Linked DNA regions of Homo sapiens. The protein of the gene in region 4 interacts with the protein of the main gene of each other region in a pairwise test. Each region holds a gene or a part of one and is shown on either strand. Other genes may lie near its edges.

What was found.
Region 1: the proteins of APBB1 (region 4) and SIGMAR1 interact in binary tests that used the Homo sapiens proteins (3 or more experiments, as listed by UniProt).
Region 2: the proteins of APBB1 (region 4) and SOX14 interact in binary tests that used the Homo sapiens proteins (3 or more experiments, as listed by UniProt).
Region 3: the proteins of APBB1 (region 4) and SEPTIN6 interact in binary tests that used the Homo sapiens proteins (3 or more experiments, as listed by UniProt).

The regions. Positions count from the first base shown.
Region 1 is NC_000009.12:34,634,780-34,641,842, forward strand, and holds the start of SIGMAR1 (sigma non-opioid intracellular receptor 1), read right to left. Parts: upstream 3,009-7,063; 5' UTR 2,919-3,008; coding exon 2,768-2,918; intron 2,642-2,767; coding exon 2,441-2,641; intron 2,334-2,440; coding exon of another isoform or gene 2,311-2,333; coding exon 2,218-2,310; intron 1,080-2,217; coding exon 853-1,079; coding exon of another isoform or gene 839-852; 3' UTR 1-838. UniProt on the Homo sapiens protein: Functions in lipid transport from the endoplasmic reticulum and is involved in a wide array of cellular functions probably through regulation of the biogenesis of lipid microdomains at the plasma membrane.
Region 2 is NC_000003.12:137,759,371-137,766,846, reverse strand, and holds SOX14 (transcription factor SOX-14), read right to left. Parts: upstream 2,533-7,476; 5' UTR 2,063-2,532; coding exon 1,340-2,062; 3' UTR 513-1,339; downstream 1-512. UniProt on the Homo sapiens protein: Acts as a negative regulator of transcription.
Region 3 is NC_000023.11:119,690,164-119,698,126, forward strand, and holds the start of SEPTIN6 (septin-6), read right to left. Parts: upstream 3,006-7,963; 5' UTR 2,943-3,005; coding exon 2,913-2,942; intron 1-2,912. UniProt on the Homo sapiens protein: Filament-forming cytoskeletal GTPase. Required for normal organization of the actin cytoskeleton. Involved in cytokinesis. May play a role in HCV RNA replication.
Region 4 is NC_000011.10:6,395,087-6,402,105, forward strand, and holds the end of APBB1 (amyloid beta precursor protein binding family B member 1), read right to left. Parts: coding exon 6,996-7,019; intron 6,897-6,995; coding exon 6,891-6,896; intron 6,603-6,890; coding exon 6,488-6,602; intron 6,344-6,487; coding exon 6,259-6,343; intron 5,987-6,258; coding exon 5,903-5,986; intron 1,130-5,902; coding exon 1,014-1,129; intron 877-1,013; coding exon 700-876; intron 616-699; coding exon 448-615; 3' UTR 39-447; downstream 1-38. UniProt on the Homo sapiens protein: Transcription coregulator that can have both coactivator and corepressor functions. Adapter protein that forms a transcriptionally active complex with the gamma-secretase-derived amyloid precursor protein (APP) intracellular domain.

The DNA.
Region 1 (7,063 bases), on a different chromosome or scaffold from region 4:
AGGGGCTGTGTGAAAACTGTGATATGTGTGTGTGTGTGTGTGTGTGTATGTGTTGTGTGTGTGTAAAAGGCCTTCTCCAGGCCAGGAAGGGCCCCTTGGAATTAGGCCCACCTGTCTAGATCCTCTCCTCAGTGGTGGGTCCTGGGCTGAAACCAGCTTCCACATCATACCCCCAAAGGAAGAATGGGGGTCTTTCTGGAATGGAAGACGCTGACTTCAAGCATTCTTCAAATTACTCTCGTTCCCCAGCTGAGCTTTGTTGCTGAGGGGGTTGGGGACAAGCCACAGGGGCACTTGCATAGCAGGGGAGTAGAATGGGGATAAGGCATATGGTGAGGACAGGGGAGAAGGGGAAGGGCATCATAGCTGCAGGTGAAGGGGGCCTCCAAAAGGCAGCTCCTCTTCCCCCTCATCCCCTCAAATTGCTGCTGGGTTGAGGAGTCAGACTGAGGCAGTATAATACCCTCCCCCATCCTTAACTCTAGAACCCCGGTTTGGTGGGGAGGAGGTGGGAAGCTGTGGAGCTATGGAAAGGCCTCAGTTAGTGAGTCAAGCTGTGATGTGTGTGTCTGAACACAACTGGCTCCCTTGGTATACCGGGGGCTCCCTCTCCAGATGGGTGTGAGTGCATGGTCCTACTGTACACACAGGTCTCAGTATCTATATGTGTCTCATTTGTTCCCATGGGTCTCTGTGTTTGGATACATAAGCATGGATATCCCTGCTCATACAGCAGGAACTCAGGATCTGCATGGTGTATGTCCCTGTCTGTAAACATGGGCTCCAGCAAGTGGATATGTGCGGGCCTGCCCGCTCCTGTCTATCCGCAGGTCTTCCTTCAGGCCTGGCTGGTCAAGGGTCCTGGCCAAAGAGGTAGGTGGTGAGCTCAAGCCGGAGGCCCCGAGCATAGGAGCGAAGAGTATAGAAGAGGGTGAGGAAGTCCTGGGTGCTGAAGACAGTGTCGGCCAGCGCGAAGGCCAGGGTGGATGGGATGACGCCCCGGCCGTACTCCACCATCCATGTGTTTGGCCCCCACTCCACAGCTGTTGCCTCACCAGGCCCGTGTACTACCGTCTCCCCTGGGGGACAGGGAGCACCCAAGTGAAAAGCCAGCTCTGCCCTGCCCTTCCATGGCTGCTGCTTCCCTGGCCCATGGACTAACTAGGGGTGGGGAATGGAGAGGGAGCTTCAGAAAAACAAAAAGCCCTACCTCACTGGGCTGGCCCAGATGGCCACTCCTAAATGTTCTGTGGCATCATCTGACCCACGTCCTCTCTTTGGAGAAGCCATGGACGGCTACCTCGCTTGGCCATGGACCCACTGTATGGAAGTCTGCACTCCCAAGCCTCACTCGAATCAAGCAGAAATTTAGCTAAACCTGGGCTGGGCTTGTAGCTAGGAAAGGGGTAGTTCCAGGACTTGTGAGGCTTTATCTGAAAAGTGTAGCTGTTCAACCACCATGCCTGCGATGCATACACCCAACCTCAAATATACTGGGAAGTCCAGTGCTCTATTTCTTAAGTAAATTGTTTCACTATTAAAAAAAAAAAAAAAAAAAAAAGGCAGGGGAGCGGCCGGGCGCGGTGGCTCACACCTGTAATCCCAGAACTTTGGGAGGCCGAGGCGGGTGGATCACGAGGTCAGGAGATCGAGACCATCCTGGCTGGTATGGTGAAACCCCGTCTCTACTAAAAATACAAAAAAAATTAGCCGGGCGTGGTGGCGGGCGCCTGTAGTCCCAGCTACTCGGGAGGCTGAGGCAGGAGAATGGCGTGAACCCGGGAAGCGGAGCTTGCAGTGAGCCGAGATCGCGCCACTGCACGCCAGCCTGGGCGACTGAGCAAGACTCCATCTCAAAAAACAAACAAATAAAAAGATAACTGTCTGTCTTGTCTTTTGGGGTATTGAGAGCATTTCTGATTACCCATTGTCTCCCCAACAGTTGTTGGAATACTGTCTGGGCAAAATTGTGCCTGGGCAGATAAAAATCAGACATGTTTAATAGGAAGTTGTTATGTTTTGTTTCCCCTTGACAGAGGAAAGCAAGAGTCCCTCAGCTCTGCCCCAACCAATCACCTGTGGCTTATGGGAGGGTGGAGGAAGGGAACCATGAGGAGGGCCCCCCCAACACACTCCTTTTCCATGCCATGCTCCCCGCAATTGTGGGCACCCCCCGCGTGAAGGGACCCACTTCTCTGACAGAGCCTTCTTACCCACCTGGGTAGAAGACCTCACTTTTGGTGGTGCCCTCTCTCCACTGGTGGAAGGTGCCAGAGATGATGGTATCCGAGATCTCAGCCCAGTAGCGCCCTGAGTGACAATCGCACATGACACTATCAGGGTATTCGCGCCATTGCATGGCCCAGCCAAACATCAGAAAGGAGGGCATGGGCCCCTTTACAACCCCAGCCTCCCAGTCTGGCCCGCCGCTAGCACTGACCCGAGTGGCCGCGGGAGCCCAAGGCGGTGCCGAAGAGCAGCACATACTCGGACAGCGAGGCGTGCAGAAGGCACATGGCGCCCATCCAGCCACCCGCATTCACGAACACCCACTGCAGCTCCTCGTCGGGCAGCACGTGGCCTGGGTGCAGCCGCCGCAGCTCCACGATCAGACGAGAGAAGGCCAGCTCGTGGTCCAGCCCTGGCGGAGGCAGAGGGGCGGCGGAGTCAGGGCTGGCACCGGTCCTAGGTCCGGGGATGGCGCCTTCGGAACCCTAGGCTCCGCTCCCAGGCCGGCCGCTCCCCTCCCTGCCCTCTGCCCGCTCACCAGCGTACTGCCGCGCCAACTGCGCTATCTCTTCGCGCTGGAAGACGAAGCTCTGCGTACCCAGCCAGAGCCAGACGACCTGGGTCAGCACCGCTGCGACAGCCAGGAGCAGCGCGGCCCACGCCCACCGCCGGCCCACGGCCCACTGCATCCCGGCGGGCGGCCTGGCACGGCGCAGCTCAGGAGGGAGCCGGGGCCTGAGGCTTTGCGCTCACGGCCTCGGAGCCCGCCGGCTGCCCACGAAGCGCTCCCCCGCCACCGCCGTGGTACGGCTCGCCCTGACCAATCGGAGCGGCCCGGGCACCTTGGCACCGCCCTTCGGTTGAACCATTTCCTCGGGGGGAGCACGGAGGAGTGGGGCGGTGCCGCGCAAGGGAGGCAAGGGGGCGGGGCCAAGTCGCCCAGCGGCAGATGTCAGGGTCTTCAGGCGAGGTCTGACCTAGCTAGCGCCACTCTACATACGGATAGGTGTGGGGATAGTGAGACCCAGAATGGACGGGCTCGCCCGAGCTCACTGGCTGGTGAAGCAGACGAGCCCGGAAGTGAAGCCTTCTGGGACTCAACGATTGTTAAGGCCCGCCTTTACCAGGACTGAAGCGGAGAGGAGGCAGTTCAAGCTGGGAGCCCCAGGGTGGGCATTCCAGAGGCGGTGACACCTGAGCAGTGTCTTTAAGAGCTCGCAGAAGGGGCATGCCAGCCCACAGGGACCAGCCCCTAGAGCAAAGGCCTCCGAGGAGAGACAGCTTGGGGTCTTCAGGGGCCTACAATTCCTTCTCTGTTCTGCGGCACAAAATGTGAGAGGAGGCCTTGTAAACCAGCTGAGGGTTATCAGCAAGGGAGGAAGGGGATTAGATTTTGCCACCGAGTGGCACAGGACTGTCGAGTGGAGGGGAGCAAGATGAGTCAGGGAGACCATGACTGTGGGCCAGGTAAGAGGGAAGGTCTGTGTCAGTGGAGATGGAAGAAAGAAATGAGCTTAACAACTCTGGAAATGGAGTTGGCAGGGCTTGATCTCTTCTTCCTGGAATACTCTTTCCCCCTTTATCCTATCCCCACTTTCCCCTTATTTGGCTAACATCCTTTGCATGTCTAGTGGGCAGTTGAGTGTCCAGGTCTCGAAGCTCAGCTCCAGTCTGGAGATAGAGCTGGGAGTTGTCATTCATTCAGATACTTTGTTGGCACTTGTATGTGCCAAGTTCTGTGGTGGCCATTAGGGATATGGCTAGAAACAATGGTCCTACTCCCCAGCTTAGAGATCTCACTGGAGAGTCTACAGAAAACCTCTAAGAATGGATGAAATCTCACAGGGAGAGAGAATAGAGTAAGATAAGGCTAAAGACAGAGCCCTGGAGAGCACCAACAGCAAAGGGTAGGCAGAGGAAGAAGAAAGCAAAAAGGAAAAGAAACAAAAGAGAAAAGAGGTAGCATTGTGCAGTGATTAAGAAATAAACTCTGGAGCTGGACTGCCTGAGTTCAAGGCCTGGCTCCTGCTACCTACTAGTTGTCTGATCTTGGGCAGTTTACTTAAAATCTCTGTAACTTAGTTTTCTTACCTGTAAAATGGAATGGAGATAAGTACCTACCTCATAGTACATATCTTCATTGTGATGAGATTAGATGGGTTAATATTTATAAAGCAGTTAGTGCCTCACATGGTGAGAATTTTATGTGATGGTTATATATATAAAACATAAAGGAACTGGAAAAAAGTAGCCTCATACATTTTTGACCTTAAAGAAAGAAACTGAGGCCGGGCGAGGTGGCTCATAACTGTAATCCCAACACTTTGGGAGGCTGAGGCAGACGGAACACTTGAGTCCAGGTATTCGAGACCAGCCTTGGCAACATGGTGAAACCCCATCTCTGCAAAAAGTACAAAAATTAGTCAGGAGTGGGGGCGCACACCTGTAGTCCCAGCTACTCAGGAGGCCGAAGTGGGAGGATCGCTTGAGCCTGGGAAGTGGAGGTTGCAGTTGAGCCAACAGAGGGAGACTCTGCCTCAAAAAAAAAAAAAAAAAAAAAAAAAAAAAGGGCCAGGCACAGTGGCACACACCTGTAGTCCCAGCACTTTGGGAGGCCAAGGTGGGCAGGCAGATTTCCTGAGCTCAGAAGTTCGAGACCACCCTGGGCAACATGGTGAAACCTCGTCTCTACTAAAATACAAAAAATTAGCCGGGCGTGGTGGCAGGTGCCTGTAGTCCCAGCTACTCGGGAGGCTGAAGCAGAAGAATCGCTTGAACCCAGAAGGTGGATGTTGCAATGAGCCAAGATCGTGCCACTGCACTCCAGCCTGGACAACAGAGGGAGACCCTGTCTCTAAAAAAAAAAGAAAAGAAAAAGGGGCCGGGCACTGTGGCTCACACCTGCAATCCCAGCACTTTGGGAGGCCGAGGCGGGTGGATCACCTGAGGTTGGGAATTTGAGACCAGCCTAACCAACATGGAGAAACCCTGTCTCTACTAAAAATACAAAATTAGCTGGGCGTGGTGGCGCATGCTTGTAATCCCAGCTACTCAGGAGGCTGAGGCAGGAGAATCACTTGAACCCAGGAGGCAGAGGTTGCGGTGAGCCGAGATCACGCCATTGCACTGCAGCCTCAGTGTGAAACAGCAAAACTCCGTCTCAAAAAAAACAAAACAGGCTGGGCGGGGTGGCTCACGCCTGTAATCCCAGCGCTTTGGGAGGCCGAGGCAGGTGGATCACGTGGTCAGGAGTTCGAGACCAGCCTGACCAACATGGTGAAACCCCATCTCTACTAAAAAATACAAAAATTAGCCGGGCGCGGTGGCGCGTGCCACCCACTTGGCCCAGCTACTTGGGGGGCTGAGGCAGGAGAATCGTTTGAACCCGGGAGGTGGAGGTTGCAGTGAGTGGAGACTGCACCATTGCACTCCAGCCTGGGCGACAGAGTGAGACTCTGTCTCAAAAAAGAAAAACACACAAACAAAAACAACAGTGAGGAAAAAAAAAAGCTGAGGCAAAATTAATATAGAGAGTTTATTTGGGCCAAGGTAGAGAACGACTGCTCGGGACACTTTTCCAAGTTGCCTTGGGGAATGTTGATACAAGCATTTTTTATTTTTATATGTGGTTTTTATTTTTATTTTTTATTTTCTTGGAGATGGATTCTTACTCTGTTGCCTAGGCTGGAATGCAGTAGTGCAATCTTGGCTCACTGCAACTCCCGCCTCCCAGGTTCAAGCTATCCTCCTCCCTCAGCCTCCCGAGTAGCTGGGACCACAGGTGTGCACCACCATGCCTGGCTAATTTTTGTAGTTTTAGTGGAGACAGGTTTTTGCCATGTTGGCCAGGCTGGTCTCTAACTCCTGACCTCAGGTGATCCACACTCCTCGGCCTCCCAAAGTGTGGGATTACATGTGTGAGCCACTGCACCTGGCCACTTTATTTTAACTTAATTTAATTTTATTTTTTTTGAGATGGTGTCTCCACTGTCGCCCAGGCTGGAGTGCAGTGGCGCAATCTCGGCTCACTGCAACCTCTGCCTCCCAGTTCAAGAAATTCTCCTGCCTCAGCCTCCCGAGTAGCTGGGACTACAGGCACCTGCCACCACATCCAGCTAATTTTTTTGTATTTTTAGTAGAGATGGGGTTTCACCATGTTGGCCAGGCTGGTCTTGAACTCTGACCTCGTGATTTGCCCGCCTCGGCCTCCCAAAGTGCTGGGATTATAGGCGTGAGCCACCGCGCCCGGCCTATTTTTATTTTTTGAGACCGGATCTTGCTCTGTTACCTAGGCTGGAGTTCAGTGGCACGATCACAGCTCATTGCAGCCTTGACCTCTTGGGCTCAAGGGATCATCCTGCCTTGGCCTCCCAAAGTGCTGGAATTACAGGTATGAACCATCATGCCCAGCCACAAGCAAGTTTTTAAAGGCAAAAGAGGACAAGGAGTGGGCTGACACAAAATTGTTTAACAGGAATTCTCATTGGCTTACAGAAACAACATTGATTAGTGATTGGCTATACCTTGTTGAACTATAGGGTATGAGTTATGGTGTCTAGACTATGGCATTTTATGGCTATGTGGTATCAATTTAGAGCCCACATAGCAAGTGGCTTCAAGGGGTAATTATTTGGCTCCATGGGGGTGGGGGAAGGTGAGATATGACTGCTGTTACATGCTGTCACTTTTTTTTTTTTTTTTTTTTGAGACTGAGTCATACTCTGTCGCCCAGGCTGGAGTGCAGTGGCGCAATCTCGGCTCACTGCAACCTCCGCCTCCCGGGTTGAAGCGATTCTCCTGCCTCCGCCACCCAAGTAGCTGGAATTACAGGCAC
Region 2 (7,476 bases), on a different chromosome or scaffold from region 4:
TTTCCAAACACCTAAAAAGGCAGAATACCTGATTCCCCCAGTCTTCTCCCATGCTTTGAACTTAAACATCCAATGCAGGACGGGGTGTTCAGCGCGCAACTGGTTCCCAGGAGACTCGGTGCTTCTCCCTGCTCCTTCAGCGTTTGGTTTTTTAAAAAGTAAACTCACCCAGATCTCAGCGGTCTGGGTCGGCCTTTGACTTAGTTCATTCATTCCTTGAAGTGGCCTGACCCTTTTGGGAAGAATGGGAGGAGAGAGTGAAGTCCCAGGGAACGATACCTTTGTCTAGCCTCTAAAGGCAAAAAGCAATCTCCAGGGCGCATTCCGGACGGATCCGAAGCTCTAGGCCCTTCTACACCCAACCCGCAGACCACCAAGCTGGGCCAACGGGGGGCAGCCACCAGCCATCACTGCTTAAAGTCGCTCTATGCACTTTCAGCCTCCCCGCACCCGACTTTCCAGTCCCTCCAACCTGGCTCCTGACTTCAGATTTTAGGCACATCAAAGGTTACTTTTTTACAATGACAGATTGTCTTTATTCAAAACGTCTTTGTTCAACAAATGAACAGAGCAACGAGGTAAAATCCTTCTAGGTACATTTCCAAGACATCGTCAAAACATTTATGACCATTTAGGTTGTTTTTGTTCTTTTAATTTTTTGTTCACCTTCTACTTCCTGACTTCATAACCCGACATTCTGTCTAAAAGTAAACTTAGATCTCTAGAAGCACTGCTTTACACAAAGTAAATAACCATGTAGGTCCTTTTTGTTTTCCCTTTAAAGAAGCAAACACTATCATAGCATGGTTTTAAATAGAAATGTTTCCCTTTCTGTAATTTAAAACTTTGAAGCCTTTCCCCCCCATACATGAAGAGCAAATGGCTCCTAGTTGTGTCTGATGGCAAAACACAGAGACACAGCTAACTCTTTTCTTCAGGGGACAAAAGGAAAAAATATATGCATATTGTAGATATAATATCAGAATCTGGGAGTTCAGAGTCCAAAGCCTATCCGAGGAGAGTGAAGGGGATATAAATAAAGCAAAACTGCCTACTTTTTTGTCCAAAGGGGGTACAGTCGGAGATTTGTTTTGGGAGAGTCGGGATAGGGGCAGCTGTGTAGCTGACATAACGTTTGCAAGTTTCCGGTACCTGTCTGCGCCTTGGGTCCGGGAGGACGCCCCACCCTTCCCCCTGGAAGAGAGAGGAAAAGTCTGGGTGGTGTAAGGGACAGCGGCAGGGCTGACCCCGGAGGCGTCTGCAGGCCGGGGCTAGGCTCAGAGGACAGGGTGCAGACCCGGCTTTCAGACCACGCCTCAGGTCCGGGCCGGGCTGGGGGTTACATGGCCGTAGCGTGGGCTGACGAATAAGGGTCTATGCCAGTCTTGGTCATGCCTGGGAAGAGGATGTAGGCGACGGGGGGCTGCAGGGTGGAGGCAGACCAGGCGGTACAGTTACAGGGCACCACGTAGCCAGGGTTGGTGGGGGACGGGTGCGTGTGCGTGTGCTGGCTGGGGCAGCTGAGGCTGCCGAAGGCGCCGTTCTGGTAGCCCAGGGTGGACGCGTAGGGCAGAGCGCCGGTAGCCAAGGTGTGGGGCACTTCGCCCATCTTCTGGATGGCGCTCGAGCTAAACTGCGCGGGGTCCAGCAGGGAGTAGGGCGCCGAGGCCGGCGGCAAGAAGGCCCGGGCTTTCTCGGGCGCGCTCAGGAGGCCGTCGGAGGCCCCCACGGGCAGGCCAGCCGCCTTGAGCGGGTCCGTGTCGCCCAGGTAGGGCAAGGGGAAGACATACCTGTCCTTCTTGAGCAGGTTCTTGGGCTTGCGCCGAGGTCGGTACTTGTAGTCAGGGTGCTCCTTCATGTGCTGGGCGCGTAGCCGCTTGGCTTCATCGATGTATGGCCGCTTCTCTGCCTCGGACAGAAGCTTCCATTCGGCACCTAGGCGTTTGCTGATCTCCGAGTTGTGCATCTTGGGGTTTTCCTGGGCCATCTTGCGCCGCTGGCCCCGGGACCATACCATGAAGGCGTTCATGGGCCGCTTGATGTGGTCTGAAGGTTTGGACATGGTCCCGGCGGCTAGGTGGGTGGGGGTAGGGAGTGCAAGGGTTCTGCAGACGAGCCTGGGCGCGGCTGGCCGTCTGTCTGTCCGTCCTGAGCCGGGGTTCTGCGCTCCCCTCGCCTTGGCGCCGCTGAGGGGAAGCCAGAGAGAAGCGCTGACCCCACAAAGTTCAGCTGATCATGCCAGTCCCAGCGCCCAGGCAGCCCCGGGGGAGCGAGTGGGGGCAGAAAGGGCGGGGGAGGAGAGGGCGATCGGCCGGGGGGCTTCAGGCACCAGGGGCTGGGACCCAAGTATCGGAGTCTCCGGGATTAAGTGGCCAGGTAATTTTTTAGCCAGGGCAAGAAGCTCCTCCTTCTCCCCCTCTCCACCTTTGCCTTCTCTAGTTCCCTTCTCTCCTCTTGCGTTTCCAGTCGTGGCTCCCCCTTCCCGTGGCTTTCCCGGAGCTGCCGCGCCTAGCGCTGCACCTGGCTGAGAATGCGGGGAGGCTGGTGAACGAGAGCCAAAAGCGGCGAAGTTCAAAGGCGAGGTGGGCCGGGACTGCACGCACTCTGACATAAGCGCGGGGCGGCGACTCCCCAACCTGGGCGCCAATCAGCAGCAGAGAAGCCGAGGGGGCGCACCTGCCAACACGCCGGTGCAAGAAACAGAGAGCGCGACTGGTGGGGGCGGGGAGAGGTGTGAGGGACAGAGGCAGAGAGAGGGCTAGAGCAGAGAGGCTAGCTCTAGACTGGGGACTTCGGTTCCACATTGTCTCGGGCACTGTCAACAAATAAAACTCTTCCGCGTCTCCTGTTTCCTTTCCCGGTTGTGAAAGAGAATTAGGGCTTGAAATACAAAGGCCGGGGAAGGGACAGCAAAGGGAGCGAGGCGAGAGCTTGTGTTGATAAATAGGACAGCTTTGCCGCGAAATGCAAGGACAGCACTTTGCCCTCTTGTCAAATATCCTTGGAAGAGAAAAATAACATATAGCAGGCTCAGGGTAAAAGCGAAATAAACTTTTCGCGCCCCACCCTCGGCGGTGCTTTGGCAGTGTTCTCCCGGGAAGCCCCTGCAACTAGGCATCCACCCCTGCCCCAGGATGCGGCGCCCGGGCGTAGCGCTGGGACCCTGGGTGGCTGAGCAATGTTGTCTGACCTGCTCCTGGAAGGCCTCGCGTCAGGCAATGCAGAGATTTCGAACCCTAGTTGGTGAGCCCTTAAAAGCACTACGACCTGTTCTTCACTTTTGGGGCAGGGATGGGGCTGAGATTTCTATTGCAGTTCCCATTTATGTTATTATTATTTAGTGTCTTTAAACCTCCAACTTTTACTCCACAAATGTTCATACCGTAAGAAGAGCCTAGAGGCTGGGTATGGGGCTCTTCCCGGTGCCCCTTCTGCAGCGGCCCTACAGCGGAGTCTCACGGTGTATCGCAACCAGGGTCGGTTTGTCCCTGGGCGCCTCTTCCCACCCAGGGAGGCTGCGAGACTCGTTTCTTGCGTCAAATGAGCATTCTTCGGGTAAAGAGGACGAAATAACCCGCAGAGCCAACCTGCGCGCCTGTTTCCTTTGAATAATTGCCTGCCCGATGTGAAATGCCCTTGGGGGAAATATTTATTAAATGGAAACCATTGTCCCAGGCCCGGCGGGACCTGCGTGTGTTCCAGGCTTATTGGCTTTTGCACCATTCTCTCTTGGGAGGACCGGCCAGAAACGCGCAAGGCTCCGTTGGCTCCGAGGGGCTAGGAGTGGGGGAGGGTGACAGGGAATGAGGAGGCCGGAAGGGAGGATCTTTCTCTAGCATGTAGTGTATCAAGTTTGAGGAGAAGACTTTGCTTCCCCTTCCTAAAATTAGAAAGACGCGTGGAACTTCTCACCCTTGGCGCACTTTTCAGAGAGGTGGGCAATATCCCCATTTTACAGATTAGGAAACTAAGGTTGAGAAAAACTAGGTGATTTGTCAAAAGTGACTCTGGGAGTGATGCTTGATGTATAGGATTTGAAAATCCCTATTTTCACCCCCATTCCACTAGACGTCACGCCTAGGGATTTCATGGCTCTGCAGCCCAATGTGGAACACCTGATGAGACTATTGGGGCAATCGACACCTGCCATGCAGATAAACCACGCTGGAAAGACTGATCCTGCGCTTGATTTGCTTAGCCATGGGCTCCACCTCCGAGGGCTGGCAAACAGGTGCACAGCCTTTACATTCCTTCCCAACCCCAGCTCTGGCCTTTCTCCAGAGCCTCCATCCAGCCCTGTAACCCTGCTTTCTCTGCAGGAAGTTTCATTTAGCTTAGGGTCTCAGGAAGCAAACGCACTTTTCAGCCCAGTCTGGAAAGGGTTTCCGAGCGTCGCTGGCAACCCCTACTCAGGTCTGACCAGCGGTGCGCTATATTCAGAGCCAGCCAGGGATAGGAGATTCAGGAATCACCCAATTCTAATTCTACTGGGCGATCCCGACGGCTTTGGGAAGGAATGAGAGAAATACTGATATCTGCAGCGAGATCCAGCGTTCGGAGGGGACCCGCCAATCTCTCACTCTAGAACCCCCCAGGGGACACCAAACGCACACCCAAAGTTCTGGGTTAATGCAAACCAAGCTCTTGGAAATTACTCAGCAAGGGGATCTGGCACAAGGTCCTACGTCCTTTCTCTCCTCTCAGTTTCCAGGACAATCCTTTCCAGTTGCCCGGAGGCAGTTCGGGCAGGCGAGCGCCTTCCTGCAATTCCTCATATTTCCTTCTCCTCAAACGCCCGAGCTCCTCTCCAAGCTTCTTGTGTTCAGCCTTGGGTCGCAGCCAATGCGCAGTCCAATTCGCAATGAGGAGCGGAGTGATACGAAGGGCGTTCGATGGTGGGCAGGGCGCCAGCTGACCCCCCGACGTTTCGGAGACCCCGATTGCCTGGTCCAGCTGCACTGACCTAGGAAGGGGCCAGCATCAGCGCTGCGCGTCTTGGCCTTGAGACAGGAACTCCGCGCGGGGAGGGAACGCAGGGATGAGGGCTGCACCTTCCAGGCCGTGCATCAGCTTGTCTCCTAGGCGAACTGCAAAGCCACGCACACCCCTTACGCAGTACCGGTGACCACCGGTTTATTCAACACTCTTTAGAGCTGTGGCGGGAGCAGGAGTTCCCGTGATCCTGGGGTCTGGCCTGGTGCTGTCTCCAGCAGGTGCCTCTACTGCGCTGCGCTGTCCCTTCACGCTGTGCCTCCCTGACGGGTCTAAACCACCGGGTAGCACGTCCTGGAGACGTGACCCCTGAGGAGAGTCAGCAACTTCGGTCACAACCAGAACAAGCATTAGGACAGAGGTTGCCTAAATACTCCTCCTGCTTTGTCCACGGCCTGAAGTTTGGCCCCAGGCTACCAGTTCATTCTCCTCCAGGGCTGGAGATAACGCTTGGATGAGGTCTTTCCGCTTGCACATTTGCCTGGAGAAGCTGTGCACACGTTCAGTACACAGCGCAGCTACTCAAGGTCCGCTGCGTGCCAGCCTTAGCAAGGCGTCCGAACCCCCGAGCAACAGGGATTTTGTCAGGGAACCGCCGCTGTTTCCCGGAAGTGAAGGAAGAGGCCTCTAAGGGCACCGACCTAATCTGCTTCTCTCCGGGCCTTTCGTCTCCCTCCAGGGCGCAGAGCGTCCAGGATGCGCCTTCCTCTTTTCTGGCTCTGGGCCTCTCCTTTCACGCAGCTCCTGCGCGTACCTCAGGTATCAGTACAAGCCTCTCACTGTCTATGGGGAGACTTTTCTGTTTCCTGGGCTGGGCTAGGACCCCTTCTATGCTCTCACTCTCACACTTCCATTTCAATCCCTGTTCCCCAGCCTCTTTTGGGTCCCTGTCGCAGTCGGTGCAGCCCACTAGACTTCGAGCTTCTCTGGGGCTGTGGCTGCGTGTTATTCATCTTGGGTTCAATTTCCGCATAATTCCAAACTCAGAGAAGACTCTCAGTAAAGTTTCCTTCTGCCCAGGCCGAGGTGGATCTTCCCGATAGGTCTTTCCCCGCCTTGCAGCTGCAGGCACGGGGCCCGAGACACAGCCTGGTAGAGCCAGACGCGGCAGTCTGGGGCCCCAGAGGCCTGCACCCACCTGCCTTGCCACAAGGCTCCGCCCCACCCTCCGGCCCCCTCCTCTCTGGTGGGCAGAGGTCACTACTCCAAGGCCTCTGGGGCTGGGGAATGGCTGAGTGCTGGGAGTAAGGCGCACAGAACGTGGCTTAGAGAACGCGGTTGGGGATGGACGGAAAGGAGGCAGCTGGCTATGCCTCTCGAGCTCCAATGGCTTTCCAAAGAGGCCAGAAGAGTCACCTGCGTCCAGAGGGCCTGGGATGCTTGGGGCTTGCTGGCACCAGTCCTGCCCGCTCACTGTGGCCACTGGAAGATTTTGGTGAGCGAAGTCGCAGGTGCCTGTTGCGGGAAGCCTGAGAGCAGCGTGGGCTTCAGCTCGCAGCTGAGAGTGAGCGCCAGCGCACCCAGGTGTTTAGAGACAAGACAGTTAATCCGGCCCACCCCCCCAAGTGTCCATAACCCAGAAGCAAGCACTGAGGTGACAAAATGATCCCAGGAAATAAGAATCTTTGTTTAAATCATAAACTTTTAATTTTTTTATTATACTCTAAGTTCTAGGGTACCTGTGCACAACGTGCAGGTTTGTTACATATGTACACATGTGCCATGTTGGTGTGCTGCACCCATTAACTCGTCATTTACATTAGGTATATCGCCTAATGCTATCCCTCCCCCCTCCCCCCACCCCACGACAGGCCCTGGTGTGTGATGTTCCCCTTCCTGTGTCGAAGTGTTCTCATTGTTCAGTTCCCACCTATGAGAACATGCGGCGTTTGGTTTTTTGTCCTTGCGATACATGAACTTTTAATTTTTATTACCCAAAATATCTTTAATGTTTGGCACCTCTGATTCCCTCTACTCCGTTCCCCGCTGCCCACTGTTTTCTATTTTAAAATTCAGAGACTGTATATATCCCGCCTCTAGAGAGTGCCCAGAGGATCCAGAGCTCTGGTCTTATTAAGACATTTCTTGGTAATTTCTCCGGGGTTTTCCCTCCAGAACCCAACCCAGCCCAGCCCATGCCGGCATCTTGAAATTTTGTAAAATCCCACTTGTCTCTTGCAGACAAGATGGCACAGGAGGGCACCGCTTACACCAAGAAACAAAGAGAAGCCGAGCAAAACCAGGGGTACATGTTTGGCATCCTGGAGCTGTTAGAGCAGTGCTGGGCTGGGCTGAAGGATACTTCTGTCTTAACATCCCAAGCACGCCCAGGTAAGGAGACTTTTTTGCTTCAAACTGCCTTAACTTGAGTAGTTTGAGTCTGTTTGTAGCAGAGCTCATGTGACTCACCAACTCAGTACAAATTTTTTTTTTTTTTTTTTTTGAGACGGAGTCTCGCTCTGTCGCCCAGGCTGGAGTGCAGTG
Region 3 (7,963 bases), on a different chromosome or scaffold from region 4:
TTGTGGTGTTCATTCAAATGGGACGGACTTGTATTATGTGCACCAGAATTGAACTTCCAAGTTGGCTGCGTGCAATGTAAGCCCTACCCAACAACTTGAAGGCTTGTTTTAGTCACTAAGGATGTTTACCCACAGTGACTCTCAACTGATTCTAGAAAGAACACACCCCCCACATACATACACATACACACACACACACACACACACACACACACACACACACACTAGGGCACTTACTCGCATGGTACCACGTCTCAGAGCTCATTAAAAAGAATTCCTGGCCGGGAGCAGTGGCTCATGCCTGTAATCCCAACACTTTGGGAGGCTGAGGCGGGTGGATCACAAGGTCAGGAGTTCGAGACCAGCCTGGCCAACATGGTGAAAACCCCCCTCTACTAAAAATATCAAAACTAGCCAGGTGTGGTGGCGGGTGCCTGTAATCCCAGCTACTCGGGAGGCTGAGGCAGGAGAATCGCTTGAACCTGGGAGGCTGAGGTTGCAGTGAGCCGAGATCATGCCACTTGCACTCCAGCCTGGGCAACAGAGCAAGACTCCGTCTCAAAAAAAAAAAAAAAAAAAAAAAAGAATTCCTAAGCTAGCCACACTTAGGTTTATTCTCTAGTCTTCTGTTCCCAAACCCTGAATACATGTTCCTTGGAGGAAACAAGCAGCAACCAGATGTCCAAGGTCTCCTGAGTTAACTCCGTCTTCCCTGGTGAATTACAACTTATTGCAGACACAAAGGAGAACAGAGAGACAAATGACACATAAACAGGAGCTTCACTGGCTGGGGGAGGGGGGCATGGAGAGTGACGTCAGTTTTCCCAGAAACCCATTTATCACGATAACAAGGTCTCGAGTGCTTAGGCTGCTCTTTCAGCTTCAGAATCTGGCGTACAATTATGTTCTTCATCATACAGTATGGCAAGGCCAGCCAGAGCAAACTGGAGCCATGCAAAGCAAACCAAGTGGCCCTAAAGCACCCCCTCACCCCCATCTGCAGAACAAAGGGCATCTCTAGGTTGCCTGAGTTGTGCCTGAGGTGAAACACACACAACCTTCTGGAATGTTCCCCATTGCAACATCTGCCCTGCAATCCTAATCCAGGCAAGAGAAACTGGTGAGAGTATGGAGGACAGGTCGATGCAAATTCATTAGCTGACATGAAAAATCATTAGCGTCATTTTTGGATGGAGCTAGTGTAATCCCAGAGATTAATTCCTCTACTTCAGCTATACCATCTCTGAAATGCAGGTAACCAGGAGCAGAAAAGCCACAGCAGAAAAGAGGGAGCCCTCAAAACACTAAAGCAATAAACAACGAGAGTGCCAATCTTGGGGGAAGAAAATTCTCTCAAATTGCATCATCACAGAGAATGTCCCCTGTCTACTCCTGGTCCTTCCACAACATGACTGCATAAAGTGCTCTGTGCTAGGGTGTGCAGGGGGTGGAGGAGGTTCCGAAGAAATGATCCTGCCCTTCCAAACAGGGACAAAAGAGACATTAATACATATTCTGTAGAGAAAATATTATCAGATTCTGGCTTCAGATTTTGTAAAATCAATTTCAATTACACCAAATACCTAGAGGCTTTTTTTTTGTACTGTAGTTGCATTGCATGAACTATTTTCCTAAATAAGTAAGCTACAAGGTTGAAAAACATTTTTATGTGGTTCAGAGATTTTCGTCAAGTAGTATGTGGTGTCATGGGATTTGACCTACCTCTGTCTCCCACTCCTTCCTCACCTCGGGGTGCTGGTGGGCTTATTAAAGTCCCAGATACCCATGGATGAATAGAATAGCTAGGGTGTCCCCCCCAAATGGAATTCATCGCCCTTTGCAACCAAACTTCTGGTTTAAAAAACAAACATGGAGCCTCAGGTCACTTCAACATGGTTTCTCTGCACATCCCAGGCTGGAAAACTTCAGTTCTTTAAATGAAGATTTTTTTTTTCCCAGAGTCGGTCGCCAACAAAAAAAGAGACGGCACCGCTTTTGCGAGTCTCACACTTATTTTCCTGAGTCTCCATAGAAAGAAGCCAGCTCCACAGGTTTTGGCACACAAGCCCAGTTACACTGAACATGCACCCGAGACAGATCCTCAGAGGCCCGCTCCAAAACATGCCAAAATACGCAGCCAGCCACCTACAGGCCAGCCAACTGCACCCCACACTGACGCACAAATGAGACCCAGAGGCACACAGCACAAGCAGACAGAGAGGCGTTCGGACACACACCACAGAGGTGAGCACACTCAGAGAAACACGCGGACTTCTTTGGGTCACAGACAGAACCCCGGCGCCGCCGCCGCCCGCCCGGGAAGACACGAGCGCGCGCGCGTGCACACATACGCGCACACCGATACACACACAGACGCAGTCACATATGTAATGCATATAGAGAAACCCTATCCCAGCCAGTCACCTCCCCGCCCCCCTCGCCACTCACCGCCTTCTGCCCCAGGCTAACCCCAGCCCCGCGCCTCTTTGCCTGTGCGGTCCCGGGTCACAACGGGCAGCCGTGCGCAGGGGCGCGGCAAGGCCAGGGTGCCAGGGACCCGGAGGGCTCGGCGGCTCCTACGGCCATTCATTCGGCAACGCCCCAGCCGTGGGGCCGCAGCTGCAGCGAGGGAGGCGGTGGCGCTCACTGCGGCTCTTGGGCAATGCAAGTTCAGCCGCCGGCCCGCAGGTTTTGCCTGCCCCCCTGCCGCCCCCCGCCCCCCGCGCGCCACCACCGTTTTCCGGGACAGGCTGAGGGACTGAGCTGCTGACCCCGGGAGCAGAAGTCCCACCGTGCCCTTGGCTCCTGGATGCTGCCCACTGCCCTCCTCGCGATGTGGCGGCGGCGGCCAGGTCTCCTTGACCCTCACCAGGCCCTCGGCCCCGGCCCTGGCACCCAAGCTCTGCACTTACCACCTGGCGAGCTATATCGGTCGCTGCCATCGCTCCTGCGTCCGCCAGGGCTGCCACGGGTGCCGCCGCAACGGGAGCTACTGCACAGGAAACAGAGGAGCTCCTCCGACAAAGAGAAAGTGTTACACTTCGGGCGCGACCAAGTCCGGTGGGGGGAGGTGCAAGGGAGGGGCCCCCTCGCCGCTGCTCCAACCCCAACCTCCCCTCTACCGCCCACCCCTTGAAAGTAGGGTATGGAGAGGGGGCGGATTTAACGCGCCGCTTCCCCCTATGGCCAGACCAGTTCCAGTTCTTCCTGCAACCCCAGCCATAGGCTTCTACGAAGGGGGGCGGGGGCTCCCCTCGGTGACCACGTCCTCTGCCCCCCCCGCCACTTGGCTCCGTGGTACGTCCCGACCTCTGCTGAATTGTCACACCCCCCTGCTCTCCTTTACATCCCTAAGTCCCCAGACCCCGAAGGCTGGAAGGGAGCCCCCGCCCCTCCCCCCTCCCATACTCTGCTCAGCGGCCGAGCTCTGCAGTTCTCCTCCCGGCCCCCGTTACCCCCCTTCCTTTCCACCGAGATCCCAAGGTGCTTAGATGGGTGCGCCTTGGCCGCTGGAGTCTCGATGCCCCACTGTCGTGTCTCCCTCCCTCCATGGCCCGGGAGCGCAGCTGCGGCCGAGGTACCGGGGAGGCCTGCGGCACCTGCCGCTCCACAGTAGAGCTTAGAAAGGGGGCCCGTGGGGGGAGCCGCACTGCAGCCCGGCAACTGAGCTGAGCTGTGGCATGTGGGGTCCGAGGCTAGAGGTCTTGAGACGCTGCTTCTGCCCTGGGGTTTCCAAGCCTTGGGTGCTGTGGGCTGTAATTTCGTGGAGCCAAGCTCACCACCTTTGGGTACCTAGTACAGACGGAACCCACGCCTCCTCTCTCCGACCCAGCCCTAGACGCTCAGCAAGACCACCCACCCCTTCTAGTACCAGAGGAAGGGCTGGAGATGAAGGTTCTCAGCTCTATGGAGCGAAATGGAGGGGCGGGTGACGGGGAGCGGCCTCCAGTCACTCTGTCCCGCCCCCTGATTTCTCCTTGACCCTCATTCAGCCCGGGACAAGGCGGCCAATAGGGCGCAGAGGAGAGAACTTCCGAAGGCAGGGGTGCGCCCGCCCGCCCTCCTTATCCCCGTGGCCCACCTCCGCGGGTCCTCTCTCGTGGGCACCTCTCCACTTCTCCGGCCTTGGCGCCCTCCCCTCTCTCTTGGGACTGGCCTCTTGCTAGCTCCCTGTCACTGGAGCACGCTGGCAGATTTGGCATGCCCGAGGCCCCAGCGGGAGGGACAGTACATTCCACTCCTCAAAAGGGCAGGTTCCCTGGTGTGGGAGAGAGACCTGGGCCCGCCAGAGGGACCCCAGATGGGGGAGGGGATGACAAGGCTATGGAGGAAACCCGGGCCCAAGAGGGGGCCCCAATGGAGCATGGAAGATGACCCCGTAAAGGCCCAAGGCTGGAGCAGCTGAGGAGGAGGCAGGAGAGAGGGAAAAAGAAAAGAAGGAACCAGGGAGAGAGAGGAAGAAGGGACTCGATCCAGAGGCCCTGGTCTCGGAGAAGTCAGGGAAGACAAGAAAATGGAGTAGCCAAAGAAGAGCATGCCTGGCACTTGGTTCCACCTGCTGGATGGAGCTTCTCACACTCTCTCGGGAAGCCCTTTATGTATGTACCCTGTGCGCCTGGAGAACAAGGACTCAGCAAACGCATCCCAGGGCCGAGTGCAGGGCCTCGCAGTCAGGAGGCACTCTATTAAGCTGAGGGCAGAGAACTTGGATGCGTGCGAGGGGGGCGGGGAGAAGAAAGAAGAGACACAGTGAGGGAATAGCAGTAAGGACAGTCATGAAGAGCCAAGTATTCAGGGAGCGCCACTGTGCGCCTTCATTGTGCTGGAGACCCAGGAGCGGCCTAAAGAGAAGAGCCTGGCAAAATCAGGGATCAGCGCAGAGGAGCTCCGCGAGACAGAAGGCGCAGGCCATAGGGCGGATGGCGGTGGCAAGGAAGAGGGGCAGCTGGAGTCTTTCAGACTCTCTGGAGCTTTGGGGCAGGGCCTGAGCCCTGGACTGGGTTGGCAGTGACACGGGGGACCAGTGCTATATCTGAGGAACCACGGTGAGGCTTGGGCCCCAACCGCATGGGGGCGGGGAGTCAGAGGTGACTGGCGGCTTCCAGGCTGGGTGTCTGGGACAGGGCTCTTCCCTGGCAAAGGCTAGGGCGTGGTGGACTGAAAGGCCCCGAGGTCACTAGCCCCGATCTGGACTTGGGGTTTGGGTGGTGGTGGGACAAAAGGGGAGAATTTGGAAGCCAGAGCAGAAAGCTGCTGCCGGAACGGGAGGGGACTGGAGGGCTGCGGGTCTCCCGGGAGAATCCCCCACGCACTGCCCCGCCCGCCTTAGCACTCCTCGCGGACTGAAGCTCCGTACTTACCGGCCCAGCGCTGGGGGCACCTGAGCACGGAATCCTTGGTGTCTCATCCATATGCCCCATTCGGCCCTCCTGTCCCTAGAGACTACCAGAACCTCACTGCGTCCTCCTCCTCCAAAACGCTGAACCTCGAAGACCTGAACTAAGTGCTTAATTCAAGTCTCCTGGGACCCTTTGGTTCCTCCAATACCTGCCCACCTGCGGCTACAAGTCCCTCCTGGGGCCTGGGCCTCCAGCCTCCTTCGGTGGGGTGTGGGTCAGTGTGTGTGTTGGTCTTGATGTGTGAGTAGATGTGTCGGTGTGTTCGTGTGTATTGTCAGTGTGTGCTAGCTGTGTGTCTGTATATCTGTGTGTCAATGTGTGTGTTGGCATGTGTTGGTGTGTCAGTGTATTTCAATGCATGGTGAGTGTATGTGTGTCAATATGGAGAGAGGTGTTAGCTCACTAGCTTTACATACCTTATCTCACTCAGTGCAGTGGGCCGACGACTGAGACGTGTGAATCAGAACATTCATTTCAATAAAGAGGTTTGGAAACTCTCTGGGATCATGCCTTTCTTTTTTTTTCCTTTTTTATTTTTTTTTTGAGACGGAGTGCTCTGTCATCCAGGCTGCAGTGCAGTGGCGTGATCTCTACTCACTGCAACCTCTGCCTCTTGGGTTCAAGCAATTCTCTGCTGCAGCTGGGACTATAAGCGCCCACCACCACGCCCAGCTATTTTTTTTTTTTTTTTTTTTTTGTATTTGCAGTAGAGACAGGGTTTCACCATCTTGGCTAGGCTGGTCTTGAACTCCTGACCTCGTGATCCACCTGCCTCGGCCTTGCAAAGTGCTGGGATTATAGGTGTGAGCCACCGCACCCGGCCTGAAATCATGCCTTTCAGTCTTTGTCCCGGGTCACCTTCCCAAGAACAGGGGAGATGGAAGGGCTGAGGAGGCAAGAGGGCTCATGAGTGGTCAGTTCGTGAGTTTTCTTCCTTGAATGTCTGTCCTCGTTGATGAGTGAAGCCAAAAGATTCCCCTTTATGAAGAGTCATTTGGGACTCCCGGGCGCTTCCATGAACATGTATGTGCTCATGTTTGATGTTTCCTTGTGGGGTCCCTTGGGCCCAGCATGGTGTCTGGCAGGTGTTCAATCAATGTTTGTTGAGTAAAGGAATGAACAGAAGCATGTAAATGAGGTGGCTTCAGTATTTCCATGTCCTTAAAGAAGCTGCAACAAACAGAGACTTCCCAGGGGCAAGCAGGTGGCTGTCATTAGCATGCCAATGTTTGTGGAGCCAGACTCTACTGCCTGGGAGCAGAAATGGCTACCCCTGCTAGATAAGAGTGGGCCCTAATTGGAGCCCAGCTTTCCACAGGTCACTGCTGGAGTTGGGGGTGCTAATACTGGATAGAGGAGCAGCAAGCAACTCAGGGGCAGGGAGGGAGAAGAGGGCACTGAAATGGAGCTAAGAGGTCAGGAAAGGGCTTTGTCCTGAAACTGTGGCTTTGTGATAGGAGAACGAGAAAGATGGTAGAGTCAGTCTCAAGTGGAGAAGCCCTGAGAACCATCTGAAAAATAAGATCAGAAAGTTGGAGGAGGGGCCGGGCGTGGCGGCTCATGCCTGTAATCCCAACATTTTGGGAGGCTGAGGCAGGTGGATCACTTGAGGTCAGGAGTTCGAGACCAGCCTAGCCAACATGGTGAAACCCCCGTCTCTACTAAAAATACAAAAATTAGCCGGGTGTGGTGGCGCATGCCTGTAGTCCCACCTACTTGAGGCAGGAGAATTGCTTGAACCTGGGAGGTGAAGGTTGCAGTGAGCCGAGATTGTGCCACTGTACTCCAGCCTGGGTGACAGTGCGAGACTCCATCAAAAAAAAGAAAGGGAGGGGGAGAGAGAGAGAGAAAAGAAAAGAAAAGAAAAGAAAGAGAAGAAAGTTGGAGGAGGAAGACAAGGTGAAGCAGGGAAAATGATCCGGGATTCACCAAATCCAGACAGTGCCAATTAAATCAGAAACTCTGTGAAGGGGCTGAGTCAAAATGAACTAAAGATCCCTTTCCTCAATTCTGCATTATCACCTGCTGCCCCTGGTTTTGCTTTAGTTTCTTTCCAGTGTTTCTTAAAATGTGGCCTTTGAAGCATCAGCAGCATATGGGAAGTTATAAAAAATGCAAATTATTGGGCCCCACCCGAGACCTACTGAATCAGAACTTCTAGGATGGGACCCAGGAATCTGTATTTTAACAAGTGCTCCAGTGGATTCTGATTTATGCTGAAGTTTGAAGACCACTGGTTTATCTTGAAAATCTAGCCCTGATGGGTTGGGATACAGGACTGGTAAGGTTTGGTAGGATATTGAAGGAGAAGTTTGAAGGCCGGGCCATTGCCAATAATTGTAGATCTGTTGGATTTCTATGGTGGGAGGAGTGAGGGTATGGGAAAGGGGGTGCCAAAAAAGTAATAGAAGGGAACCCAGCAGGAGCTAGCTCACTAGAAGAGTTAGAAAGATAAACTTTGCCTCCCGATATGGTTAGGCTTTGTGTCCCCACCCAAATCTCATCTTGAATTGTAATCCCCATAATCCCTTTGTGTCAAGGGAGAGACCAGGTGGAGGTAGGGA
Region 4 (7,019 bases):
TGGGTTGATGGTGTGGTACAGGCATAAGAAGGCACACAGCAGTGCAGACAGACTTTATTAGTGATATCAATACAGCAGAGGTGCCCATGGAGCAGGGGGAAGGGACCCATGCCTGGACCAGTCCCTTCCTCCTTCTGCCCCTGCTGGGTCCAGGAGGATGAGGCCTGGCCTGGACCAGTTCCTCCTGTTCCACCTGAAACACATGGGGATGGAGAACCAGGGCTGGCCTTGCTTCCTGCTCCTCTTGTTACCACTCCAGTGTTATCACTTCCTTGAAGGGATTAGATCTCTCCCTCCCCAGCTCCTAGGCAGGGAACCGTAGCTACTGGGGAGGGGCATATTTGGGAGGCCTGAGGCCTAGGAATAGCCTCTAGACCCCTCCCTGACCCACACCCTTTAGTTCCCTGGGGCCCAACACAAGCAGGTGGAGGGAAGGTGGGGGCTTCTTCATGGGGTATGGGCCCCCAGCCGTTTGGGCTTCAGGGAGCCCCACAGCGACTGAACACCCCTGCGGACAGTCCACCCTACACGCCGTGCCACAGACTCAGCAGGGGGTGCTGGGAGGCAGGAGGTGGAGGCCTGGGAACGGGCATCCAGACACTTCTGGTAGCGAAGCTGCGGAGGCAAGCAGGGCAGTCACTCCCCAGCCTACCTCCCATGGGGCCACGCCACCACCACACCACCCTACTAGTAGCTTACCATGCACGCAGCCTGCACAGCCTCTGAGAGGCTGGCAGCATTGGGCTCGCACCAGAACATGTGGCAGCAGAAGGAGGCTGGGCCGGCAGCCATGATGAATGCAAACGTGTGGACATCTCTGCCCACGGCCAGGAAGGAGAGGAAACGCACCCGACACTCTCCCAGCACTGCCTCTGTCTGCATGGAGGGAACTCAGTTAAAAAGGAACACCAACCCCACACTGTGTTCCACATCCATCTTAGCAGCTCTTCCCCTCACCCCCAGTCTCCCCTCTATGGCAAGGCGCAGCCACGACTTCTACCCCAGCTCTTTACCTGCTGGTGCAAGATGGTGAGGGTAGCAGGGGCCACACTGACATGACTTGGGGTCCATTGTTCACGGCTGCTGGAGGACAGGACTGACTCGAGGGCCCCATTAATCACATCTACCCCTAGAACATATGGACACAAGATACCACTGAGGGTAGACAGAGGATACCCCAGCTCTACCCTGGACCTCTAGTTCCACCCAATCAAACCCAGGGCCTTTGCCCCATCCCCACTTTGCCAGCCTACATTTTGGACAACGCTGTCCAAGTATCCCTTCCCTGGGGCTCTCCTCCCCTGGCTTCAGTAACTGGACATTTTCCTACTTTTTAAAATCTTGGATCCTAGGCTCGTTATTTTCACCGGCTCTGCCTATTCCTCCACACTTCTGAACTGACTGACCTCTCAAAGTTCTGATTTCCCCAAATCATGCTCTCTCAGCGCTCATCACACTCAGACATCACATTGCTTCACACCACAATAACTCCCAAATCAGACCCTACAGGCCAGTCCTCTCCCAAGACCCAATTATTTTTTAAGATATCTATCTGAGGAGTGATTACTCTGTATCACATTGTGCTAAGTCATTACAGTGTATTACCTCATTTGTGCCCACACAACAACATCACAATAGATTACTTTATTTCCATTTTACAAATAAGGAAACGGAAGAGATAGGTAATATGCCTTAGGTCACATCGAGGAATGGGGACCTGAGCTCAGGCAGTCTGATTCCAGAGCCTGGGTTCTTAGCCATGCCTTTCTCCTACCTCTTCTCTATATTACTAGTTTTCAGAACTAGAAGGGCTTTCAAGATCTTAGTTCTACTCAAGAATGTCTATAATGTGCTCAAGAGCCAAGGAACCCAAGGTTCCTGACTTTCAGATCAATCAACTTTCCCTTATAACACATGGCCTCCTCCACCTCAAACTGCTGTTAAACATTTCCCCTCATGGATCCCACTTTTGCTTGCACTCAGCAGAGCACCAAGGCAGGAGCACATGTTGTGGCAAAGGCATCAGTTCTAGTCCCCACACTCATACGCTGGCTGTGTGATCTACTGTCTCTGCACAATGCCAGTGCAAAAGGCACATGCCTCTGTGGTCCACTCCCAGGCCCTCTGCCCCTTTTAGTGGCTCTCAGCTCCCACTAGGAGCAGACCACGTGGACTCTTTTGGGCAGAGGACAAATGTCTTCCTTGCATGTCTTCTCCCATCTTGGCCTTGCTCATCTGACTTCTAGCTGGATCAAGGCCAAACTGCTCCCAAAAGCATACAAGTCTTCCAAAAACTGGCCTCACCAGAGCTGTCAAGCTTCATATTTTACTGCTCCCTGAGCTTCAGATGATTTGTGTAGCATTATTATTAACAACTAATCTTGGCAAATGGCCTGTAAAGCAGATGGGGAATACAAAGCAAGAGAAGAGAATGCCCTTGAGAGACACAGACTGCAACTGAGGGAAAAGCCTCTGTCTTGAGTGCCCTTTCCCTGCTGGACTGAGAAACTTCAGACTGTCATCCTTCAGGGCTCCAACTAGGTGCTGTCTAGGAAGCCATGCCTGCTGCAGGGCAGGGAGAGGACAACTCTGAGACAACTCTTACCATAACGTCTTGTAACTGCTGGAAAACTTTTTTCCACACTGGGCCGTGGCCATCTCAAGAACAGAAATGGAATTTAATTCATCCCTCTGTCCCCAATTCTAACACAGGGCTTATCTGCTGAAGAAATTCCAGATGCATGAGCAAGTCACTCTCAAGGCAACAAGGGCAAATGCACCCGAACTGGTAAAACCAAGTGTCACAGAAGTGGATGGGCCAGGTCAGATTGCAGAGTGCTTCAAAAGCCAGGCAGAGGGGTGTGATGTTTATGACATTTAGGCCAGGGCAATTGGAAATCTCAAAGTTCAGGTGTGTGAAAGGGACATCATAGTCAAACTGCTGAATAGATGGGGCTGTGGGAGATGGAGCCTGGCCTCAGAGTCTTGGGAAGTTTGGCAGGGAAGCAGTGAAAGCAGTGGACCAAGGTATGGAAAAAGGCTGTCAGATTTGATAACTCAGGACTAAAACCTACACTGTGACCTTGACCTCCAGCCCCACATGCAATCCCCCTAATCCTGCTGTGCTTTTCTCTTCTTTTTTTTTTGTATCAGTTGTTGCCTTCTAACATACTCCATGGTTTACTCATTTTATTGTCTGTCTCTCCTTGCTAGAATGTCAGCTAAATAAAAGCAGGGATCTTTGTCAGTTTTGTTGATTAATGCATGCCAAGAAGCTAGAATAGTGCCTGACATGTATCAGGCATTCATTACCACTTGTTAAATAAATGAATAATTAATGAATGAATATTGCAGCTTCTGGATGGGCTAATGTTTAAAAACGAGCATAAGATAAAGCAGGAAGTAAGTTTAGAGACCACTTGTCCAAGCGGAGCAGTCAAGGGTCACAGGCAGTTGATCTGGCATAGGGAGGACCAGAGTCAAGTGGTAGATGGAAAGAAGCACATATGGGAATGGGGGTAACAAATGGAAGAGCCAACAAGGGTTTAGAAGTTGAGGACGAGAAGGAGGAAAGCAAAGGCGTAAGGGTCAGCATGCTTTTCTCACCTCCAGCTCCAAGTCTTTGGCAGTGCCATCGAATCCAAATGAAATACCCACTCCACTCTGCAAATCCAAACCTTCTTTCAAAACCTCAGTTCAATCCCCACCTTTTCTAAGAAGGGTCCCCTCTTTCAATGTAAGATTTTGGACGTGAAAGTCAGCACGGTATAAGGGAAAGTGCAGAGAATTAAAGATGACCGGGGTTTGACTCCCAGGTCTAGCTTTCCTGGCCATGTAATCTGAAGCAAGTCTCATTTATTCATTAATTCATTTTTTATTTCATTCATCAAACATTTGTTGAGTTCTTCCTGTGTGTCTTTTGACATGATACCCTACCACTTCTTTTTCAAGTAGCCTCTTTTCTTCTTCCTGCCTCTCTCCAGTTGTCACTATCCTTGGCAGTTTCATCCTCTACACATCCATTGAATGTTGGAGGGCCTCAAGGCTATGACTAGCTTCATTTCCCTTCTCACTTCAGGATGCCCACTTTCCAGGGCCAAGCTACTCTACATCCATGGCTTTGATTACCTCTACAACCCAATAATGCCAAAACTCCTATCTCCAGCCCAGACCTCTCCTCTCAGCTCCAGATCTGTGAATCTAACTGCCAACCTGACTTTGCCTCTCAGATTCCCCAAAGGCATCTCAAACTCAGCATGTCCAAAAGTGAGCTCACAATCTCTACGCTCAAATTGGCCTCTTCAAGCATCTGCCACCTTGAAAGAAATAATCCACTATCCAGAAGGTCCAACAGCCAGGAACTTAGGAGTCATCCTTGTCCCTCACCCACATCGAACCAATCACTGAGGCCTGTTGACTATACCCGTCTAAACAGCTCTTGAATCCACGCACTCTTCTTCAGCTCCATTGTTGCCCAAGATACTCTCATTACTGGCCAGGACTACAGCAAGAGCCTCCTAACTGAGCTGCTCACATCCACCTCCACCCACTTAACAGTCCCCTCCATGAAATAGCCAAAGTGAGCTTTCAAAATTCAAATCTGATTAAGGCAAGTGCACTCTCGGAGACTTCAATAACTCCTTGCTGCCCTTAGGATGAAGAAAAAATCATTAACATAGCCCCTGAGGTCCCTGACCTGGCAGCCTGACCACTGCCCAGCTGTCGGCCTCATCTTGCATTGGCCTTCTTTCAGTACCTTGGAAATGCCAAAGTGCCTCCCACTGTAGACCCTGATCTTCCCCCATCCCACCCCCACCTCCATTCCACTTGACCGCATTCACTTCTACTTATTTTTTGGATTTCAGTTCAAATGTCACTTTCACAGGGAAGTCTTTTACAACCTCAGACTAGATGAAATTCCTTTGTTATATCTTGCTACTTTCTCTCAACGAATAACTCACACATTTATTTGTGTGATTATTTTATTAATTCCTGGTTTTTTTCTACCATAACCTTCTATAACCTCTAGGAAAATGGGACTGTGGCCACTGTTCTCCCTGTGCCTAGTCCAGGGCCTGCCACATGGTAAGCTTCAAAGGTATTTGTTAAGTGAATAAACAAATAAATAGCAGACACTAGGAAAGCACTGAAATATAAGAGTTAACCAGATCAGGCCAGGCACAGTGGCTCACGCCTGTAATCCCGGCACTCTCAGAGGCCGAGGCAGGTGGATCACTTGAGGTCAGGAGTTCAAGACCAGCCCTGGCCAACACAGTGAAACCCCGTCTCCACTAAACATACAAAAATTAACCAGGCGTGGTGGCGGGAGCCTGTAATCCCAGCTATTCAGGAGGCTAAGGCAGGAGAATTGCTTGAACCCAGGAGGCGGAGGTTGCAGTGAGCTAAGATCACGCCACCGCACTCCAGCCTGGCGGACAGAGCGAGACTTGTCTTTAAAAAAAAAAAAAAAAAAATTCTTTGCAACAATGAAGTATGTGACAATTATGCTCACTGTTTCCTTCTCCAGATGCTCCCAGCCCACAGCTGGTGCTGTAACACTAAACCCAGCTACAGGCTGCTGTCTGGTGTCCTCCAGTCATCTAACATCAGCCTCCCAATCCCACCAAAGCTTTTCCATGGGATGAAGGAGTGGGGTCTCCCTTTGTGCCTGGTTCAGCACCACTCACGTGGCTGATGCTCAGCGAAGGCGTGCTGACTGCTGCTATAGGCAGGACAGGAAATAGAGCTAGGACAGAAGTATGGGGAGGTGGGATGCATTTTAAAGGGTAGGGAGACACCAAGCATGAGGAAGGTCTGGTAGAAGAAGTATTGGAAGGCAGAGGGTAGGGGCAGAGTTTTAGGATCAAGGTAGCAGCCCCTGGGTATAGAAGGACACACATACCAACAGGTTTAGCAACAGGTACATTCCCCAGGTAATAGACTTGGAACTTCTGGACCAACTCATTCTTAGGCGCTGGGAATTCCACTATGGGAAAGAAGAGAAGGTTGATCATGGTGGCAGACCTTGCTCACCCGCAGCCCCACCAGCAGGGCATAAGCTGGACACTTGCCCAGCCGAGGCCCTACTTTCATCTCGTCCCCTGCCTCCCTTTAACCGGAGTCCCTCCACGTATTGGAGTATTCAGTCTTCATGTGTTCATTTTTCTATCAGCGCTGTCCAGGAGCTCATGCCTTTCCTTGGGTCACCCACCTTTGCCAACAAAGCTGAGCTGGACCTGGAGGGGTTTTGACACTGACCTTGGAAAGGGACATCCACAAGTTTAGAGTGGTCCAGGGAGAGTCCATTTACCAAGCAGCGGGCATTACGCCGTTCGGCCATGATCTGAGGAAGGAAGGGAGGCGAGGAGCCAGGGAGAATCTATTAGAGCCTCATTGCCCTGGGGCCCCCCTACAGCACTCAGTGACCCCACCCACACCCTTGTAGAGCAAAGGTGGCAACTAGTCCAGGGAGTGGAGGGGGCCGTGCCTTAGAGCAGATCTCATGCAGGCTGGTGGCGATGTTCTTGGCAGGTGCCTCACAGCGAAACACGTGGCACTTGAGCATCTGGGTCAGCTTATCACGAGCTACGTAGGCAAAGTCCCTGTTGGGGAAGGGGCACCTCAGTGTCTCCCAGTACCATCCAGTGCTGAGCCTGGTCCCCACCCCACCCACGTCCTCCCTGCCCATCACAGCTCCTCCAGGGCTTCTGCCCACAGCTGGTCCCCCATAGGTGCTGCCTTCTTGGGGGGGAGGGGTAGACAGGCAAGCATGCTGAGGTGGAGGGTAATGGTGGAGCATAGCGGGTGGGAAGGGGCAGGGCAGAAGAGGGGAGCTTGGGTGCTTCCAGGCATCTGGTCCAGGTGTAGGAGGGGGAAAATAGGCATAGTACCTCTCTCTGGGTCCAGCAGCACAAGAGAGGCAAATAACAGAGTTAGAGAGGAGGACTCTGATGCTGGATGAACTCCCACCCTCGAATCCCAAGCCCTATTCCCACCTTCCACTGTCCCGCCCGACGCCC